3 linked regions of the Homo sapiens genome follow. The protein of the gene in region 3 interacts with the protein of the main gene of each other region in a pairwise test. Each region holds a gene or a part of one and is shown on either strand. Other genes may lie near its edges.

What was found.
Region 1: the proteins of TLK2 (region 3) and FEZ1 interact in a two-hybrid assay, tested with the Homo sapiens proteins (one study listed by BioGRID).
Region 2: the proteins of TLK2 (region 3) and SMARCC2 interact in binary tests that used the Homo sapiens proteins (3 or more experiments, as listed by UniProt).

What each region holds. Positions count from the first base shown.
Region 1 is NC_000011.10:125,461,263-125,466,398, forward strand, and holds part of FEZ1 (fasciculation and elongation protein zeta-1), read right to left. Parts: intron 2,309-5,136; coding exon 2,222-2,308; intron 1-2,221. UniProt on the Homo sapiens protein: May be involved in axonal outgrowth as component of the network of molecules that regulate cellular morphology and axon guidance machinery.
Region 2 is NC_000012.12:56,171,981-56,177,116, reverse strand, and holds part of SMARCC2 (SWI/SNF complex subunit SMARCC2), read left to right. Parts: intron 1-2,352; coding exon 2,353-2,466; intron 2,467-3,267; coding exon 3,268-3,421; intron 3,422-4,087; coding exon 4,088-4,180; intron 4,181-4,412; coding exon 4,413-4,532; intron 4,533-4,626; coding exon 4,627-4,689; intron 4,690-5,136. UniProt on the Homo sapiens protein: Involved in transcriptional activation and repression of select genes by chromatin remodeling (alteration of DNA-nucleosome topology).
Region 3 is NC_000017.11:62,596,719-62,601,901, reverse strand, and holds part of TLK2 (serine/threonine-protein kinase tousled-like 2), read right to left. Parts: intron 1,252-5,183; coding exon 1,082-1,251; intron 1-1,081. UniProt on the Homo sapiens protein: Serine/threonine-protein kinase involved in the process of chromatin assembly and probably also DNA replication, transcription, repair, and chromosome segregation. Phosphorylates the chromatin assembly factors ASF1A and ASF1B.

The sequences.
Region 1 (5,136 bases), on a different chromosome or scaffold from region 3:
GCCAGCTCCCAGAAGTGGAGGGAAAATTAGATATCTGCCAAAAGGAACAAAAGTGAATTACTAGCTGGGCATGGTGTCTCATGCCTGTAATCCCAGCACTTTGGGAAGCCGAGGCAGGTGGATCACTTGAGCTCAGGAGTTCAAGACCAGCCTGAGCAACATGGCGAAACCCCATCTCTGCAAAAAGCAGAAAAATTAGCCAGTTGTGGTGACGTGTGTCTGTAGTCCATGTTACTTGGGAGGTTGAGGTGGGAGGATGGCTTGAGCCCAAGAGGTAGAGGTTGCAGTGAACCGAGACTGGGCCACTGGACTCCAGCCTGGGCAATAGAGCCAGATCCTGTTTCAACAACAACAACAAAAAAAAGAGTGACTTACTTTGTACATTAATTATTTACAAATAAAGAAGACTGCTGCTGAAAGCAGGTCTTTAGATGAGTTTTGTCCCAACCTTCACCTTTGTCTGTTCTCCATGGATGGACTAAAGTCCCCGAGGCCAGCATTGTACTCTTTGAGGTGGTTTCTTCACAGTGGGCTGGACCAAAGGTAAGGGGTTTCAGGGTCTCCTCCTTTAGAATAATTTCCATTCTTATTCCCAAACCTTTTCACCTCTACTCACAAACTTAGGAAATACCCAGTCTTTGACTACTGAAAGCCATTTTACAGAATGCAACCAAATGACACAAGTCCCTGTCAGGGTCTTATGGCTGAATGTCCTTTTCTCTAAGAGGAGTTATAATTGAGTTCATATCATTGAATTGTAGATCCTCCTACAAGTCACAAGAATAGCTATTAGCCCCTATTTTTAAAAATCTGGTTCTCTTCAGTCTCCTAATCCTCACGTGTTTCAATTCCCACCTTTCTATCACAGATATGAAAAAGCACCATTGCTGCTAAAAAAGCACTTTCTGGCACCGAAGGCTGCCAGTGGAGCTTTGCAGAAAGACTTTGTGGAAACTTATGTAGTGTTTAGCTCAAAATAAGCACCCATAAATATTTGTTGACTAAAACATTAAATAAGGAATCCAGAAACTGAACATTATCCTCTCTAAGTAATAAATTATTAAAGCTATGATGATCTCAATTGAATGCGAAGCACTCTATCTTTTTTCACAAAGTCGAAGTGGCTCTAAGACTCCTTTCGGAAGGCCCAAAATTTTGAGTGTTCTATGAAATGTAAGAAAATATCCATCACACAAAAGCCTCATCTGTCACTTCTCTTTTTGGGAAAACAGGTATTTGGGACCCTTGTTTGAGTGTCTTGACTCCGAGTACAACGAATTTCAATAAGAAGGCTTAGCAGGATTGTAGCTACTAAACACTATGCCTGTCTCTGGCTCCTATCAGAGACTGACCCCAACTATCCCAAGTGTCAAGAATGACATTCATGTTCACTGCAGGTGGGCAACCTGAGGCAGAAAGAGAGATGAAATCCCTTATCAAAAATACTCTGAGTTGGACAGTCACCGTGGCTCATGCCTGTAATCCCAGCACTTTGGGAGGCCAAGGCGGGTGGACTGCTTGAGTCCAGGAGTTTGAGACCAGCCTGGGCAGCATGGTGAAACCTCATCTCCACTAAAAGTACAGAAAATTAGCTGGGCATAGTGATGCATGCCTGTAGTCCCAGCTACTTAGGGGCCTGAGGCGGGAGGATCGCTTGAGCCAAGGAGGTTGAGGCTATAGTGAACCCTGATTTTGCCACTGCACTCTGGCCTGGGTGACAAAGTGAGACCCTGTCTCAAAATGAAAAAAAAAAAAGGTCAGGCACAGTGGCTCATGCCTATAATCCCAGCACTTTGGGAGGTTGAGGTGGGCAGATCACTTGAGGTTAGGAGTTTGAGACCAGCCTGGCCAACATGGTGAAATCACATCTCTACCAAAAAATTTTTTATAAGAATTAGCCAGGCATGGTGGTGCATGCCTGTAGTCCCAGCTACTCGGGAGGCTGAGGCAGGAAAGTCACTTGAATCCGGGAGGCAGAGGTTGCAATGAGCCAAGATCACGCCACTGCACTCCAGCCTGGGCAACAGAGCAAGACTCTGTCTCAAAAGTATATATATATAAAGAAAAAAAAGAAACAAAAAATACTCTGAGTCATGAGCACAGGCACCACATGACCACATATCTTTCTTCTGCCTTAAATGGATGTGGCAAGTGTGTTCTCTTGGACTTTTTCTCCATCAAAAGAACAAAAGGTCCCGATAACCTGGAGAGATACTTATACCTGATCTGCTGTGAGCAGAGGCTCCTCGTTGATACCGGAATCATTTTCACTCTTCTCATTGAACTCTTCCTCTTCTTTCTCATGGATCTGGAGAGGAGGTGGGGAGATGGAATTCTGGGTGACCATCAGCAGAAGTGGGATTGCCTCTAGTCTCGAGAATGGATGATACTGACTGGGAGGCCACTCCAGCCAGCTGCTGTCTAAACAGTGGAGCTGAAGAGGTGTCCAGAGTTTCATCCAATTCCAAACATATCTTTGCCCCATCACTAACTCCAGCATGCCAGAAATCCAGCATGCAGCACTGAATCCAACTTGGCAGGAAAAGACGACAGGGGAATGGCCAGCACCATTCTGACTCAAAGGGGACAGCACCGTTTTTTAACCCACAGACAGGTCATCCTGGGGTGAACAAGGCGCCTTCTCCAGGTAAGTGACACTGCAGCCAACTGCAGCAAAGGTGCCCTGATTTTGTTAAGGAGTTCCAACCTGGGGGGTTGTTTCCAGATTTCGTCTTACTAGGCATTTTAAGGAATAGGTTGTTCTAGTCCAAATAATGATGACTTTCAGAATTTGATGAAATGCCATCCTGTTACTGGAATCCAGGCATGATGTCATAGCTGATGGCAGATGTAAGAAATCTGCATGGGACATGCCACTGAATAACCTGACCACATGAACTAAACAACAACAAAACTACAAAAGAGAACCCCATTTATCTCATTTGCCCTGTGTCTCTATAATTCCATAATCCCAAGTAAGATCCTCAAAGTTCACAGCCATCAAAATTCTAGATGTTTAAATCTAACAAGCTATTCAAAGCATATCTGGCTTAACTGACCATATCCCAAACTGCCATAGTCTGGCATTTACATTCAAGTCCCACAGAAAAGTTAATCACTAAACACCTAACAAGCTGTATGTCTAGAAGTCTGATTTGAACGTCATACAAGGAGGAGGCAGGAGGTGTCTCTAGGAAATCTCTCTGCTGAGTCACCTCTCATCCAGGAATGAATCCTCCTTGCGCTCCAGTAGCTGGCACACCGATTGGCCCCTTCCCTGGGGCTTGTATTCTGCCTTTTCTAACAGGAAACAGCCCAGCTCCAATCCAAGCAATAATGTCAGAGGTAGTCTATCCTCAGAAACTTCTCCCGTCTTCTGTGAGCTTTGCCTTGGCAGACATCCCTAACAGAGCACATCACCTTTTATCTCCATTTGCTTAAAACCAGGACTATGTCATTAAAAAAGAAAAAAAAAATTAAGCAAATATATCTCAAATGCCATCCGCACTCAACCTAGATATGGGGTAGGACAGGGAGGTAATGGAATCATCTGAAGGGCCCGGGTACCAGATGGTGACATCTATTTCCGCTGTCAAACCCATATGCTCCTCTCTCTGCCAAGTCCACCACCTGCGATAGCCTCGTGGTTTCCACCGCTCCCCACTATGCAGAACAAAACTCCTGGAGCTACGCTTTGTTCACAACTACACTCATATGGAAGAACTTTCTTCAGGCCAGAAAATCCTGCAGTAGAAGTTAGCCCAAAATTAAGAGAACGAAGATACATTTTTTCCTCCAGACAAAAATTAGGGGAGAAAAAGGAAGAAATGTATCAATATGAACCCAGCCCAAGTTAGTGTGAGCCCAAGTTAGGCTCATCCTGGGAAACAGGGTTATTTTTCATAAGCATCTAACAGCAACTGTTAGTCTATAACCAGGATTTGGCAGGGGGTAGGGGGTGGTGGGCACTAAGTCTATATAAAAATGGCATGTTTACCTTTTCTGAAATGTGGCTGATTGTAGTGGGTTTAACTCCCTGACTGTTAATATTGCTTCTTTCAACTATATCATCTCCTCCCTCCCCAAGTTCCTCACTCCTTGGGGAGTTCCAGGAAGAAGGCAGGGAGGAAGCTTCTAGGGATAGATCCTTCTTGCTGCTCAAATGCTAATAAGCCTGGGCTGTGGCCGGAATGATGCACTAGTAGAGTTTCTCTCCCCTCCCCCTCTCAGGCGCAAAGCCTCCAGGTCTGAATTGTCAGGCTTGGGAAAACAGAGATGGGAAAATCAATTATAAGCTTATGAAAGGTACTGTGAGTTCCTACTCTTATGGGAACCATACTCATCCCTTATTTTCTTATTTCTCAGAAGTCTGCCACTAAAAAATAAAATAAAAGGAGAGGCAGACATAAAATACGGCCAAGAAAACCCTGGCTCCTTCCCTCTATGTGCGGGTTACCCCCTAATCCTTGGGCTTCCCCACCTCCATCGTGCCCCAGCCTCTTCACCTCCCTCTCCAGCGTTTGATTCTGATCCTCTCACCCTTCCCACCCTCCCTAGGCCTGGTTCCCACATTTTCTGTCCATCCTGCCAGACTTTGCTCTGTTCCAACAGCATCCATCACTTCACAAGCCCTTGCCTCTTTACGGGCACTGTTTACAGACTCCTTCCCTCCCCTCCTTGACCAGGACAGTATCTTGTGCACAGGGTGGAGAGCTGGAGGGGAAACAATGACAGAGGAAGAAAGAAAGGTTTTTGAAAAATGACAGCCCTTGTGCATATAAATACTCTTAATCCTAGCATAAGACACTGACATAGATATCACGGTAGAGAGTTCCTTTAGCCCCTTGTGCAGCAGTGGGGAAGATACATGTCAAAAATAACTTCAGGCCAGGTCATTTAGGGCTGAATTTCTTTGTCAGCTAAAACTGCTAGTTGTTACCAGATGTGGTGGCTTACACCTGTAATCCCAGCACTTTGGGAGGCCGAGATGAGAGGATTGCTTGAGTCCAGGAGTTCGAGACCAACCTGGGCAACATGGCAAGACTCCGTCTCTAAAAAAATAGAAAAATTAGTCAGGCATGATGGCACACCTGTAGTCCCAACTACTCAGGAGGCTGAGGTGGGAGGATCAATTGA
Region 2 (5,136 bases), on a different chromosome or scaffold from region 3:
AGGCGCGGTGGCTCATGCCTGTAATCCCAGCAATTCGGGAGGCTGAGGCGGGCGGATCACCCGAGGTCAGGAGTTCGAGCTCAGCCTGACCAACATGGAGAAACCCCGTCTCTACTAAAAATACAAAACTAGCTGGGCGTGGTGGCACGTGCCTGTAATCCCAACTACTAGGGAGGCTGAGGCAGGAGAATCGCTTGAACCCGGGAGGCGGAGGTTGCAGTGAGCCGAGATTACGCCATTGCACTCCAGCCTGGGCAACAAGAGTGAAACTCCGTCTCAAAAAAAACAAAAAAACAAAAACAAAAAAAATTAGCCGGGCGTGGTGGCATGCATCTGTAGTCCCAGCTAGTCTGGAGGCTGAGGCAGGAGAATCACTTGAACCTGAGAGGCAGAGGTTGCAGTGAGCCGAGATCACGCCACTGCACTCCAGCCGGGGTGACAGAGCGAGACTCCGTCTCAAAAAAAAAAAAAATTAGCTGGGCGTGGTGGCAGGCGCCTGTAGTTCCAGCTACTTGGGAGGCTGAGGCAGGAGAATGGCATGAACCTGGGAGACAGAGCTTGCAGTGAGCCGAGATTGCGCCACTGCACTCCAGCCTGGGCGACAGAGCAAGACTCCGTCTCAAGAAAAAAAAAAAGATTTTGCCTCAGGCCAAACCTGCTTGGCTTTGGATAAGACATGGCAGTCTTCTTTGGTTAGGAATACTTCAAGATAACCACATTGATGAGGTGGGTGAGACTGAGAACTGAACAAGTTTTCTTCCCAGCTATTCCACAGCTTCCCCTCTCTGGGGGTCCCTCCGTGTTTTTTCTTCATAGCTTGCTATGGTTCTCTCTTCCTTCTCTTCCTGGAGAAAGCAGTATGTGTGAAAAGAAAGTAGTGATCAGGTGAAATGAATTCAACATGACATGCAGGCAGGGTTGGAGTAGGAACTGAACTCTTGGTATAAAATAGTAAATGATGGCTGGGCATGGTGGCTCACGCCTGTAATTCCAGCACTTTGGGAGGCCCAGGCGGGCAGATCACGAGGTCAGGAGTTCGAGACCAGCCAGGCCAACATGGTGAAACCCCGTCTCTACTAAAAATACAAAAATTAGCTGGGTGTGGAGGCACGCACCTGTAATCCCAGCTACTTGGGAGGCTGAGGCAGGAGAATCACTTGAGCCCGGGAGGTGGAGGTTGCAGTGAGCCAAGATCTCATCATTGTACTCCAGCCTGGGCAACAAGAGTGAAACTCCATCTCAGAAAAAAAAAAATAGTAAATGATGATAATTGCCTGCATCTATTGAGAGCTTAGTATCTCCCAGGCACTATACTAAATGTCCAACCTACATTGAGTAATTTAATCTTTACGTCAACCTTAGAGGTAGATATCATCTTCAGTTGACAGATAGGGTATAGAGGAGTCAAGTCACCTGCATAAAGTCACAGAGCTAGTAAATAAAACCAGGATCTGAATCCTTTAATCTGGCCCATGATCTGAAACTTTACACTGTACCACATGATAGCTGCCATTTTTTTGAGCCCCTACAATGCGCCAGGCACTATACTAGTACTTTATAGACCTCTCAACAGACATTCCATTTTACAAATGAGGAAACTGAGGTTTAAAAATTCGAAGTAAATTGCCAAGGTCCTCATGGTAGAACTGGGATTTGAACTTAGATCTTTTCAACTTCAAAACATATGTTTTTTACCGTGGTATGCTGACTAGCTATATGCATGAATAAGGACTTCCTTTTAACATCTGAGTTTGGAAATGAGTATTTTCTTAACTTCTAATTCCTTGTTTAAAAATTGTATAAAATGGCTAGGTGCAGTGGCTCATGCCTGTAATCCCAGCACTTTGGGAGGCTGAGGCAGGAGGCTCACCTGAGGTCAGGAGTTTGAGACCAGCCTGACCAACATGGAGAAACCCTGTCTCTACTAAAAATACAAAATTAGCCGGCCGTGGTGGCACATGCCTGTAATCAGAGCTACTGAGGAGGCTGAGGCAGGAGAATCTCTTGAACCCAGGAGGCGGAAGTTGCCATGAGCCAAGATCATGCCATTGCATTCCAGCCTGGGCAACAAGAGGGAAACTCCATCTCAAAAAAAAAAATTGTATGAAATATCCCTAAGTATAGCCAAGGAGATAATTCATTTAAAGAAAACCCCATCAAGGAAAAGTAAGACATATTTGAAACCCTTTCATCTAGCACATAGCAGGCACTCAGCATGTAGAGTCAAATAATCTACTTTTTTCCATCTTTATCATGCAGGAGAAGTCATTAGCTCTCTTACCATTTTTTCCTTTAGCCCTTTAACAAACATTTATTTTTCTTCTTCTTGTTTCTCTCTCTCTTTCTTCTAAGCTACCTGGCCTATCGAAACTTTATGATTGACACTTACCGACTGAACCCCCAAGAGTATCTTACCTCTACCGCCTGCCGCCGAAACCTAGCGGGTGATGTCTGTGCCATCATGAGGTGGGTCTTGTGGCTGAGGGGAAGGGGGTACATGAGGATGCCTGCCTATGGATGTGTTTTGGCAACAGTAGAGATGCCAGCAAGGAACACAGAGGAGCAGACAGAAAAAAGCACCTCTAGAGAAAGGTGAAGTACAGGTTTGGGGAATGAATGACTTGAGGGATTAGCAATGGCATTCTCTGAAGTGTAGAATATAGGACAAAGAAGGAGCATGTCTGTAATTGAAAGATACTGGTTCAGGCCAGGTGTGGTGGCTCATGCCTATAATCCAAACATTTTGGGAGACCAAGGTGGGAGGATTGCTGGAGCCCAGAAGTTCGAGACCAGCCTGGACAAAATGGCAAAACCCCATCTCTAGAGAAAATGCAAAAAAATTAGCTAGGCATGGTGGCACGTGCCTGTGGTCTTAGTGACTCAGGAGGCTGAGGTGGGAGGATCCCCTGAGCCCTGGAGGTGGAGGCTGCAGTGAGCGGTGATCACACCACTGCACTTCAGTCTCTCTTAGGGAAAAAAAGAAAGAAACTGGTTCAGTTTTACTAGCTATTCAGGAAGAAATGTTCGGTAGGTAGGTAGATATAGAGATTGGCCCAGGCTGAAGATGTAGACTTGGGTGTCACTGGCATTTAGGTGATAAATGAACAACTGGAGTAGGTGAGATTTCTTAAGGAGTACAATGAACAGAGGAAAAGGCCGGGGTTGGGTGGGGAGGGGGTTTATGCCCCTTCTACCCCCCACTTTTCCTCTTCCTCGTGCACCTTTCTGGCTATCCGTGTGACCCTGTCTCTGCCTCTCTCTGCACAGGGTCCATGCCTTCCTAGAACAGTGGGGTCTTATTAACTACCAGGTGGATGCTGAGAGTCGACCAACCCCAATGGGGCCTCCGCCTACCTCTCACTTCCATGTCTTGGCTGACACACCATCAGGGCTGGTGCCTCTGCAGCCCAAGACACCTCAGGTAGGGTGAGGTGCTATGGGGATGGGGCGGGTTGGGAAGATTGGGCTTCTTTGAACTTTTCTTTTTCTGGTTTTTAGGGTAATGGTTCAGGAGTGTTTTGAGGCTTCTTCCTTTTCCATGGGATGCAAAGGGTCACGGGAATCAGCCCCATGTGTTTAGCATCCTCTCTCAGCCTTTGTACCTAAGGCTGTAATTGCTGAGGGAGAAGAGATTATCCTTTTACTCAAGGAGTAGACAGGCTAATGTAGGGGAGTCAATAGAGAAAAATGGCTTAAAATTAACTTGCATGAAATTTTTAAACTTTGTCATCTTTGCCACATTTTTTCATTTTTGCCTCATAATTATCATCTTCATTTTTTTTTCCATTTCCACTTCATCCATTACAAAAATTAGGAAGAAGGTTATGTGGCTTGCCCAAGGTCACAGAGTACCAAATCTAGGATTAGAACCTAATTGTCCAGCTCCTAAGAGAACCTATAAAGATAATGTGAATATGTATGGATATCATGCCAACGACATGTCTTATTAATCATGAAGGGAACATGGAACAGTGGCATGAGTGCCCCCAGAGCTTGTGGGCCGCCCAGCATATGGTCTTGAGGCCTCCAGGGCCTTGGCCTGGTCATTTCCTGCCCAGCCTCCATGACGCCAAGCTCTGTCCCCCAGGGCCGCCAGGTTGATGCTGATACCAAGGCTGGGCGAAAGGGCAAAGAGCTGGATGACCTGGTGCCAGAGACGGCTAAGGGCAAGCCAGAGCTGGTAGGTGGGGTGCAGACCCTGCTGGGCTGCTCATTTTCCCCTTTATTGGGGGGCCCCTGCCCGGGAAGAAGAGACATGAGAGCAGAGGAACTACAGCAGTAAGGGAGGAAGTCCCACCCAGGGGTGTCCCTGGCTTTGGGAAAGAAGCTCCTTCTGTCTGTTTTTTCTCTCTGTCAGCCCCTGGCTCCCGGTGGTCACTTGTACTCACCTGTTTCTTTCCCTCCACAAATAGCAGACCTCTGCTTCCCAACAAATGCTCAACTTTCCTGACAAAGGCAAAGAGAAACCAACAGACATGCAAAACTTTGGGCTGCGCACAGACATGTACACAAAAAAGAATGTTCCCTCCAAGGTAGGAGGTGCGGGCCGACTCTAGGGGTAGAGAATGTTCGCTCCTCAGAGGTCACAGGCTCCTTTCTTCTCACCTGCCTGTGTTTCCCCTGCAGAGCAAGGCTGCAGCCAGTGCCACTCGTGAGTGGACAGAACAGGAAACCCTGCTTCTCCTGGAGGTAATTGGGGCAAAGAAAAGAGAGTTTTTCTCTGAAAACAGAAGTGGGCTCCGTGTAGAGGCTCACGCCTGTAATCCCAGCACTTTGGGAGGCCAAGGCAGGAGGATCACTTGAGTCCAGGAGTTCGAGATGAACCTGGGCAACATAGTGAGACTCCGTCTCTACGAAAAATTTTAAAAATTAGCCAGGTGTGGTGGCACACACCTGTGGTCCCAGCTACTCAGGAGGCTAAGTGGGAGGATTGCTTGAGCCTAGGAGGTCAAGGCTCCAGTGAGCTTCAGGACCAGCTCCAGGCTGGGGATTTGGGCCATTTCATTAACTTCATATCCTTTCTTAGTGCTACTTCAAGATCCCCCTTGGACCTAGCAGAGTACACAAATACCAGAACATAGAGAACTTTGAAACCAGCTGCCCTTAGTAGGATGGGGGGAGTCAGCCTTCGAGAAA
Region 3 (5,183 bases):
TGGACTCTGGATACTCAGGGAGAGTCCTCAGCATCTGCTGAAACTTCTATTTTCCAAGAATCACCTGCTTAATGTGCCAAAACCACCACTATGATGAGCTCTGGAAATAAAAATAACTGGCCAAAGTAAAATACCCTTGTTCACTTGGTCAAAACTGATGGGAAACTTTCATCTGAACTTTCAGTGAGGATCTCTAAACTACCCTGTTTAGAACAGCACTTGGGGTGTGGGGGAGGAATCAAAGAAACCATGTAAGGAAACCAAAGCTAGCACCACAGCACCGCCTACAGCTCCCATTGCAGGAAAGTGTTGAATTCAGTTATGGAAAATTCATTCACAAAATAGCCATCTTTTAAAAAATTTCTTCATCATAATTAATGTTTTAGTCATCTGAATTGTATTAGAACATTAGAGAATAGTCAATGAGACGCAATATGCACCTACCAGAAGAGTAAAGCAAAGTTTACAATTTTGCAACACCAGAAGGTAAATGTGGACCATCTTCCTAATGCCCAAGCTAAGCTGTTAGAGTTGTCTATAGAACTATGCAGATTTCTAAAACACAGCTGAAGATAACAATAAAAAATAGAGGTAAGGACTCTAGCTGCCCTGTACTCTTTGCTGATGAACATCAAAGCTAGATAATAACCATACAAAAAGATGAAAAATTCTGCTTGAAATTTATTGAAATGGGAGGCATATAAGTAAAAATAAGTTATTAATTTGGGGGCTCTTATCAAAGAGACCTGAAGCAGAGGGACTGTTATGTAGTAGGAGTCATGGGAAAAAAACAAAACTGAACTTGCTGCAACAGTTCTTTCTTAATGAGACTTACATCATGAACTGCCCTGGCTCCAAAGATAAAGGTATTGTTTCTCCAGAGTATTTAATCCAACACGCCCTCCTAAACCCAGTGCTGCTTGGCCAGGACTCTTTTTTCCCACACCTACCCAGGCAATCAAAAGTCAGATGTTATTAGCCTTTCTTGGCTGCTGTGAAATTCTCTAACTTTATCAAATTAAAAGTCACTTATAAGACCAAAGAAAACCCACTAATACTGTCTCCTAAAAGTTAGACATACCTGGTTTGAGGTCATAGTGTATGATGGGAGGTTTTATTTCATTTAAGTACTTTAAAGCATTCACAATCTGCATGATAATGGACCGGGCCTCTTTCTCCGACATTAATTTGTGCTGTTTCAGGTAGAAGTCCAGATCATTTCCCTCACAGTATTCTAATACTGTACAAAACCTAAAGACAAATAAACCAATATTTAACCATGGAATAAGAGCAAGCAGATTAACACTACCTAAATTAGTCCCATGTGAAAACTTCAGGTCATCAGCTTCTCACTCCTTTCTTCTTTGTTCCTTAAAATACTCTTCAATTGTTTATTCAGTATTAGCTGAGGGGTTTCTGGTAAGAAACTGCTTATTCTCTTGAAGAGTTTCCACACCCTCAATGTTGGAATCTGTTGTGCTCAAGTTCACCCATGGCAGACCTCTTCTTGAGTCTAGACTATAAGAATACTGATAAGAACTATAATGTATTTAAGCTAGGTATCTTCTTGGAAGGGGCTCCTTTACACACCCATGCCACACATCCACGTCTAAACAACCAGAATGTGATCAAGTACACAATTCTCTCTTTTTTTTTTTGAGACTCCGTCTCACTCTGCTGCCTAGGCTGGAGTGCAGTGGCGCAATTTTGGCTAGGTACACAATTCGCACTGCAAACATTTTATATAACCCTGAGTGCTGGCAATGAGTAAGAATCTAGAGTTTGCCCACGTCCCAAAAACTGACTGCATACTACGTCTTCTGACAGCTTGGCACAATACTGCACTACAATTTCTCTTAAACACAAGGTGTAAAAGAGCTTGTAAAGTATAGTATCTATGGTTCTAACAAAAGTATGTGGGTTCTCTTTCCTTCCCTTATGTCAATATGTCATACAGACCCATACATAAAACCATATGCCATTGGTGGCATCACAGGTCACGTGTCTATCTTCCAAGGCATTATACTCTGAAGTAAGGTGTCCTGAACTGTTTGAATATTCCTGAGGGATGAATACGTTTTGAAGTTTTCTAAGTTGTGACAATGTGGGTGTATCAGTCAGTTTAGCCTGGAAAAAAAAACCACCTGAACATTTAAAACAGAGAGACTTTAATTCAGGGAACTGATCATACAGATGATGGAAGAGCTGAGAAGACAAACTGGTCAGTGAGGCACCCTAGAGATCATCTACAGCAGGAAGCCATTAGCACCCTCAGGCAAGCAGGCCAGAAGGGAGGAGATGGTGAAACCAGAACCCAGGGTCATCAGGGGAAACTAGAATTGCGGGGAGGGAGAGGAGGTGGAGACCCCCTCCCATTTCTGCCTTCCCATTGGCTGAAACCAACAGAACACCAATGGACACATGGGCCTGATAAACACAGCCTACACGGGCTAACCCCCCAAAGATACAGAGCAGCGAAAGGGCGAGGAACAGAACTGAGAGCAAACAGACTCAGGTCTAGCGCTATGGGCCACTGAGCAATTTGAGGCCTTCATAAAGCACTGCAATTGAACATGGACACACATGGTCCTGTGGACACCACAAACTGAACAATATCTTATGTATCTTAAGAAACATGGCAGGGCATGCTAACACCCTATTTGAAAACAAATGTCTGCTGTAATCCCAGCAATTTGGGAGGCAGAGATGGGTGGATCACTTGAGGCCAGGAGTTTGAGACCAGCCTGGCCAACATAGTGAAACTCTGTCTCTACTAAAAATACAAAAAATTGGCCAGGTATGGTGGCGCATGCCTGTAATCCCAGCTACTTGGGAGGCTGAGGCAGGAGAATTGCTTGAACCCATGAGGTGGAGGTTGCAGTGAGCCAAGATCATGCCACTGCACTACTGCCTGGGCAACAGAGCAAGACTCCATCTCAAATAAAATAAAATTAAAAAAAGAAATGTCTGAAATTTATAGATTCCTCTGATCTGAGATTCTGAAATCTGAAATATAGACTCATGCTCAATGGAATGATTCTTTCACCCAAATGCAAGTTGAAAATAAAGCCTCACTTTCAGCCAGGCGCGGTGGCTCAAGCCTGTAATCCCAGGACTTTGGGAGGCCCAGGCGGGCGGATCACAAGGTCAAGAGTTCAAGACCAGCCTGCCCAGCACGGTGAAACCCTGTCTCTACTAAAAATACAAAAATTAGCCAGGCATGGTGGCGTGCATCTGTAATCCTAGCTACATGGGAGGCTGAGGTAGGAGAATCGCTTGAACCTGGGAGGTGGAGGTTGCAGTGAGCCAAGATCGCACCACTGAACTCCAGCCTGGGCAACAGAGTGAGACTCCATCTCAGGAAAAAAAAAAGGAAAACAACCAAAACAAAAGAAAGAAAAGAAAATAAAGCCTCACTTTTAATACCCAAACAATTCTCAGAAGATGTTCTAAAAATCATGGTCTGACTTATTTTTGGTGAAAATTCATCATACATACAATAGGAAGAACAAAGTAATCAACTCAAGAATAGTATAGAACCAACTCAATTTCTCACATTAGTTAAAAGTGTGTATACAATTCAAAACAGCAGATAATTTGAGCCTGATATTTAACTTTGAAATAGTTCTTGAACTTAATAGTTCAGAGAGGGGGGTCTACCTAGTATTCAAGAAATTTGCTCAAGGCAAAACAGTAATGTCATGCCCCGCCCCTTGTTTCCCAATCCTGCCTTCTAACTAGATCTTTTTAAAAAAATTCCACTCCACGTGAAACACACATGGCTAAGCTCAGTGCCAGGGCTACCCAAATGAGAAGAAATCCCTGAGAGAATGGCCCAGGTCATGTTTCCAAAGGGAATTATAGTCCTCTTTGGGGTTATTTCTAAATGTAAGGCAGCTGTCTGCACAGCCATATCTGAGACTGTTGGCTAGAACAGACCAAAACTCCTAGAATTACCCTGGGAGGCTGAGGGAACCTGAAGTCTAGACCTAGGGTATATTCTGATTCAGTTCAGACTTCTACAGAGAAACATTTCCAAATGCTGAGATATATCCAGCTAAACTGCTGGATAAACCCAGAGGCACGGGAGGTTACCTATACCAAGTAACAAAATATAGCAATGCCCACAATTAATAACTATCTCAGACAAGTTATTTAACTTCTCTGGTCCTCAAAATCCACCTATAAAATGAAAAGGCTGGACTCTGAGATCCCTTCCTATTCTAACATCCTATAAGCCTATGAGCCTGTATTTCAACATGTAGCACTGAGCCTTGTCTTCATTAGTGCCACATTTCTTATCTCAGTCTAGGATAAAATCACACGGCCAGTACTTTTTAAAAAGGTCTGTCAATGTTCATAAGAGTCTCTGGGGTGAGCAGAAACTCTCTTGAACAGTCTACACTCACTAGTGCACGTCAGTGGCATGCTGGCACCAACTCATGCCAGTTTCCAAGAGCTGACTTAAATTTTCAAGAATTTTGTGAGCTGGTTATCAAACCGTTATAAGCAAAATGTGGTATATCCACACAATGGAATATTATTTTGCCATAAAAAGGAATGAAGTACTGACACAGGCTACAAGGATGAAATTTGACAACACCATGGTAAGTGAAAGAAGCCAGTAATAAAAGTCCACATACTATATGATTCCATGCATATGAGGGTCCAGAATAGGAAATCTATAAAGATAAAACAGACAGATTAGGGCTAGGGCAGAGGGATGGAATGGTGGAATAGATGAATAGTAGTAAAAGGTATGATGGGGTTTGAGATGGTGAAAAAATTCTAAAATTGCCTCTGGTGGTTGCATGTATCTATGAATATGCTACAAACCACTAAACTGTATATTTTACATGTGTGAATCATACAGTATGTGAATTATAATTAAGATGTTTAAAAAAAAACAAAAATAAACAGGTGGTACATCAAAATTAGACACAGGAGGAATATCTACACCACGGAAACTGGCAAACACTATAAATTAGCCCTGTCTCTCTTCATACCAAGCTGGCTGTTAAACATTTACTGGCACACAAGTGCACATGTCCTTTGGCCTAGAGGTTTCTTGCTGATCCAAATCTGAATTTATGTTTGATCATTTGTCACAAATTACTTGGTTCCCTCAGAGGGTATGTCCTGGACCCAGAGTTCAGCTCTATTCCATGAACAATCAGCATTGC